Linked DNA regions of Homo sapiens: region 1 is linked to region 2. The links come from fine-mapping of genetic effects on plasma protein levels. A gene starts in region 2. The other region holds a variant in brackets. All regions are shown on one strand. Distances are from middle to middle.

Region 1 (2,906 bases), 42 kb after region 2:
TGCTGCTATCTGCCTTTTTAAATTGAATATGTCTAAAAGGAGGGTCAAAATGGGTTTTGTTGTGTTTTGTTTTTTTGTTTTTCTTTGAGACAGGGTCTCACTCTGTCATCAAGGCAAGAGTTCAGTGGTGTAATCATAGCTTACTGCAGCCTTAGCCTCCTGGGCTCAAGCAATCCTCCTGCCTCAGCCTCCCATGCAACTGGGAATACAGGCACCACCATGCTTTGCTTTTTTTTTTTTTTTTTTTTGGTAGAGATGGGGTCTTGTCATGTTGCCCAGGCTGGGCAAAATGTCATTTTACTTTATTATTATTATTATTATTGTTGAGACAGAATCTCACTCTGTCACCCAGGCTGGAGTGCAGTGGTGCTATTTCAGCTCATTGCAACCTCCATCTCCCAGGTTCAAACGATTCTTCTGCCTCAGCCTCCCAGGTAGATTGGGATTACAGGTGTGCACCATCATGCCCAGCTAATTTTGTATTTTTAGTAGAGATGGGTTTCACCATGTTGACCAGGCTGGTCTTGAACTCCTGACCTCAGGTGATCCACCCACCTCAGCCTCCCAAAGTGCTGGGCTTGCATGCGTGAGCCACCACGCCCGGCCACAAAATGTTATTGAAAAGAGTAGGGGAAAGTTTGATGGGGACTTTATTTTGAAAAATTAGACCAAAATGTTCAAATAAGTTTTTATCTTACATTTAACACATTTTGGGTTATAATTATAATTACATGCTAATTCTTGGAGGAAAAAACAATGCCTCACATGAATGAGGAGTTGCAAAACTTTTATGTACTAAGTGGTGATAACACAATGACAACTCATTACACGTTTCATTTCCACAACCTGATCTTACAGGAAGAGGGTTAATAGCTGGGATTTCCCCCTCGAAGCCTCTCTTAACCTTTTGGTATTCTAACCACTCTTTTGGAAGTAGTATCACTCTCATGGTACCCTCATTTTTCCATGACTATGAGACAGGCAGTTCTCCAAAGCCACCTTCATCAACTTCACAAACTGCACTTTCTGCAAGATTTTCTGATTTCTCCTTATAACTGACTTACCTGGTCCTGTTGGATAGTTACAGCATCAGATGGTTGGTAAGGTGCTCATGAGACGAGTGAAGCAGCAGCTGTGTTGAGCAGGAAGGGCTGTTGGGGTGGGAACTGATCTTTATGAGCCGTCAGCTCATTGGTCAATATCTTGCCCTCTGATAGCTCTTGCACTCTTGCAATCTTGAAACTGTGGGGACTCCTACAATGAATGCCGATAGCTGAGTACCCCTGAAATGGGCTTGGCAAGGTGCCTGGCACACAGTGGTGCCCTCCTGCCCCAGCAGGGAAGGAGGGGGAGCCATGCTCATCTCCAGCCCACTCCTCATCCCCCTCAAGCCGGTCCCAGGCTGAGAGGCTAAAGCTTGTCTTTGCCCCTCCCCTAGGTGAAGACTTTGTGGACATCCCAGAAAACTTCTTTGGAGTGGGGGGTGAGGAGGACATCACCGTCCAGACAGTGACCTGGCCTGACATGGAGCTGCCACTGCCTCGAAACATCACTGAGGGTGAAGCCCGAGGCAGCGTGATCCTTACCGTAAAGCCCATCTTCGAGGTCTCCCCCAGTCCCCTGGAACCCGAGGAGCCCTTCACGTTTGCCCCTGAAATAGGGGCCACTGCCTTCGCTGAGGTTGAGAATGAGACTGGAGAGGCCACCAGGCCCTGGGGCTTTCCCACACCTGGCCTGGGCCCTGCCACGGCA[T/C]TCACCAGTGAGGACCTCGTCGTGCAGGTGACCGCTGTCCCTGGGCAGCCGCATTTGCCAGGGGGTAAGTAGCTGCCCGTGGGTGCATCCAGGGGCAGGTGGAGAGAACTTGGCCTGCAGGGAAGGGATTCCCGCAGTTGAAGGCTGTACCTTCTACTTAACCTGGCACGTGGGACAATGTTCTCTCCTCTCAGACCTTATTCTCCTCATCTGTGGAACAAAAACAATAGGCCAGACTAGTCAGGTCCACACTCTTGCCACCAGGGATTTATTTCAAATGAGGTCATATGTGGAATCCAGTCTCTGTATCAAGCAGGCACATGTGCCACATAGTTCTAAGGGAAGTAGCGTGGAGAACAACTGGGCTCCTTCTGTCCAGGGCCCCTCCTTGCCCCATCAGACACCCCAACAAAACAGAGCCACTAGAAAACCACTGCCTTGGATGACCCCTGAGGCCTCTCACTGCTCTGACCTCCCAGGACAAAGGCCAGCAAACTGTGGCCAGTGGGCTGGGTTTAGCTGTTCTCATATGGCCCATGACTTAAGAATGATTTTTACATTCTTAAATAGTTAGGGGCAAAAAGTCAAAAGAAAAATAATATTTTGTGACACATGAAAATTATATAAAATTCAAATTTCAATGTCCACAAATAAAGTTTGATTGGAACAAAGCCATAGCCATCTGTGGACAAGTTGTCTATGACTAACTGAGGACAATCACAGCGAGGTTGAATACAGTCAGTCTTTCATGTCTGGATTCAACCAACCGTAGATGGAAAATATTCCAAAAGAAAAGAAACAATAACAACAATACAACAATAAAAGTAATACAGATTTAAAACAATACAATATAACCACTACTTACATAGCATTGACGTTGTATCAGGTTTTATAGGTAATCTAGAGATGCTTTTATACAAATACTACACTTGTATATCAGGGACTTGAGACTCTGCAGATTTTGGTATCTGAGGAGATCCTGGATCCCGAAGGATAACTGTAGTTGTAACAGAAGCCACATAGCCCACAAAGCCTAAAATATTTACCATTCGGCTCTTTCCAGAAAACGCTTCCAACTCCTGTTCTAAGATGACAGTGTTCTAGGTGCTTAATACATGTGTGAAAATGGGATGTCAGGTAGCATAGAGCCCAGT
Region 2 (2,906 bases):
TGGGCCAGGGCCAGTCCCGCCCCCAGGCAGAGATGGCCAGTAAAATAACCACATAATTCCAGTGGAGTCGCCCTGGGGAAACCGAGGCACTTCAGTTCCTTTTCATCAAGGAACTGATTAAAGTGTGGTCTATTATCTCTGTAGTGGGGAGTCCCGAAAGATTCCACTTCTTCCTCTTCTTGCCCAATGAGAGGGTCAGGAAGCTTCCACCACCATCCTGACTGTGGCCACCACATCCTGGTGTGAAGCACCACCAGCTTCCTCCACAAGAACTCTGAAGGTCACCAGCCAGCTTGAGTCCTCCGAAGGTGCTGTGGCTCAACCAGCAGCCTGTGTAGCAGAGAGCACAAGACCTGGGACTCGAACTCAGTCCCACCTTCAAGAGGGATCTCCACCACTTTCTGAGCCTCAGTTTTCACATCTTTGGTTAGGGGCAGGTGGGAAGTTGCCATATTTACCTTGTTGGGCTCTTTGGAAAAATTAAATGAAATGTTAATGTATGTTACACAACGGGCTCATAGGAGGGATTCAAAAGCTGCTAGTTCTTTTTCTCCTTTTCCTGAAAACGGTATTAAAGAGTACTGTAGAGACACTGGAGAATTCCTGCTTCATATGAGATGTCCTTGGTCTCTCCCGGGGAATTTGAAGACCCAGAGACTCGCAGCTCCCCGTGAGCCTCCCCGCTGACGCCTTACCTCCCCCTCTCCACCATCCCCTGCCATCCCGGTGTACGCCACCCCCAAAAAAACTTTCAGCCAGCTCCTCGGTGAGGGTCGTTCCAAATCGTGGCCGACAGTAGCGGGCTGCACCCTCCTTAGATCGCGTCGTGGCCAGCCTCAGCTGCAGAACCCCGCCGGGCGCCCGGGAGCCCTGTCCCGCCGCGGCGGCCTCAGAGTCCGGGCACTTGGGGATTCTCTGAGGGTGCAGCCCTCCTGGGCCCCTCCGACTGCGGAGCTGCCGACCGCAATGCAGATGCGGGCCCTCCAGCCCTTCTCGCGCCGCCTTCCTCCCGCCAGCCCCGGAGCTGCCGGGTCCGCGCCGCCCCGGGGAGCGCTCCTCTCCCGCCCTGAGCGCAGGCCGGCTTCCCCATCGGCGCGCCGGTCCGGAGCCAGGGTCCAGCGCGCTCCAGACGCCTCTGCCTTCCCCTCCCCCTGTCGGCCGCCCCTCGGTCCCTGGGGGTGGGGTTTCCCTTTGCGCTCGCCCCCTCCCGCCCCCACCCCTCACGGGCCCTCCCCTCCCCCGCCCGTCCCTATGTATGTGTCACAGCGCGCCATGCCCGCCCGCCCGCCCACCTACCTCCCCGCCGCTCCAGAGGGGGCTCGCAGAGCTGAGGACGCGCGCAGCGCTGCTCAAGGTCTCTCTCTCTCAGCACCCTCGCCGGCCGGCGTCTGACGCGGGTGCCAGGGTCTCCGGGCACCTTTCAGTGTCCATTCCCTCAGCCAGCCAGGACTCCGCAACCCAGCAGTTGCCGCTGCGGCCACAGCCCGAGGGGACCTGCGGACAGGACGCCGGCAGGAGGAGGGGTGCGCAGCGCCCGCGCAGAGCGTCTCCCTCGCTACGCAGCGAGACCCGGGCCTCCCGGCCCCAGGAGCCCCCAGCTGCCTCGCCAGGTGTGTGGGACTGAAGTTCTTGGAGAAGGGAGTCCAACTCTTCAAGGTAACTGTCTCCTTCCCTCCAGAGCGAGGCTCTCCCAGGGCGCCCGGCGAGCCAGGAACGGGACTGAGACTGCACGCCCCGGGGCTGGGGGCTGCACTGCCTTGGTCTCCGCCCTAGAGCTATGTGTGCCGGGGGCGCAGCACATCCACCGGCTGCGTCCGCGGTGGAGTTGAGCAAACTTTTTGGCTGTTGCAGACTCAGTGAATGGGGCAAAGGAACACGTGAGGAGGGGCACTTGTCTCCTAGTCCGCCAGGATGAAGGAACAAGGGAGCCTTTTCTCCAAACACCTAGGTGATTTTAAATCCTAGGGTCTGGAAAGACCCATGGTTGACAGAGTAGCAGCTTCAGAGTCAAGGGAATGTGGGTTCAAATCCCCGAGGTGCTACTTTTGAGCTGGAAGGTGTGCTTCACCTTCCTGAGCCTTGGCCTGCCGTCTGTCAGCTGAGAGGGAAAAGGCCTTCGCGGGGTCTGGAAGAATAAATGAAATCATATGGACACTATGTCAGGGACACAGCGGGTCCTAAGCCGAGGCTAGATAGTCCATCCTTGGCCACTTGGCTTACTCCAGGGACCAGAGTGCCTGAAGAGTCTGCCCAGGGGAGAGTGGCAGAACCTGGGACAGAGCTACTGAACTGCCAGCAGGGGAGAGGAGAGCAGTGCCCTGAACACACGGGTGTCCAACCAAGAAGGGGCATTTCTCAAGGAAGAAAGGGGAGGGGAGTTGAGGACACACGACCACGAGCGGTTTTTCCGTCTGTGGGTTCCTCTTCAAACGAAGCCAATGCTGGTGGAGCAGGAGCCCTTTCCAACCCTGGGGCTGGGTTGGAGGCTGTCAGTATGTCAACTGAACCACACTCTGGGCAGAGCAAGCTGCGGGGGTGGGGGCTTGTCTCTGGTTGTGAGACAGGATCCAACCCAAACTTTTCCATCATTATCCTCCTTTCAGTCATGAGCTGGGTTCTGACAGGATCCTACTAGGGTTTCACCATGAAGAAGCTGGAGTTCCAGCATGTTGACTGATGTGTAAATTCTGGTTCTGTGGGGCTGGCTGCCAGGAGGAAAATACAAAGCTGAATTGGGTTAGCACGGTGTTTTGGGGTCCTGGGTGCTGCAGTGGGTGGGTGTCTGACAGTTTAGAGGGGACTCTGGACCTTGAAAATTCACCCACCTCGTCTGAAGAGGAGGGCAAGTGGACCCAGAAAGGTGCAATGAATTTCTGAAGGTTGAACTGTGACTTAGGGTCAAGGGC

Which allele goes with the higher level. Positions count from the first base shown, and alleles are read on the strand shown. Strength reflects both the effect of a copy and how common the allele is.
For the plasma level of the protein whose gene starts at base 1,283 in region 2, allele C in region 1 goes with a lower level than allele T (weak association).

Evidence for each region. PIP is the posterior inclusion probability: the model's chance that the variant is causal. Protein levels are from antibody-based Olink assays in UK Biobank. Linkage for the fine-mapping came from a reference panel and not from the study's own genotypes, which makes the PIPs less certain.
Region 1: its variant is fine-mapped to the plasma level of the ACAN protein (UK Biobank, PIP above 0.99). The variant lies in the coding sequence of ACAN. If it changes the protein, the assay may bind it differently, which can mimic a change of level.

What each region holds. Positions count from the first base shown.
Region 1 is chr15:88,844,067-88,846,972 of GRCh38, forward strand. It overlaps ACAN (aggrecan), which reads left to right. Exons shown (of 19, transcript NM_001369268.1): 7 at 1,439-1,816. Among named protein-coding and RNA genes, the nearest start is that of ACAN, 42 kb to the left of the region's middle. RefSeq lists an enhancer at 2,849-2,906. The variant T/C (reference allele first, on the strand shown) is at 1,753.
Region 2 is chr15:88,802,154-88,805,059 of GRCh38, forward strand. ACAN (aggrecan) reads left to right here and starts at 1,283. Exons shown (of 19, transcript NM_001369268.1): 1 at 1,283-1,656. It overlaps LOC105370960 (a long non-coding RNA gene), which reads right to left and starts at 1,365. Exons shown (of 3, transcript XR_001751648.1): 1 at 1,297-1,365.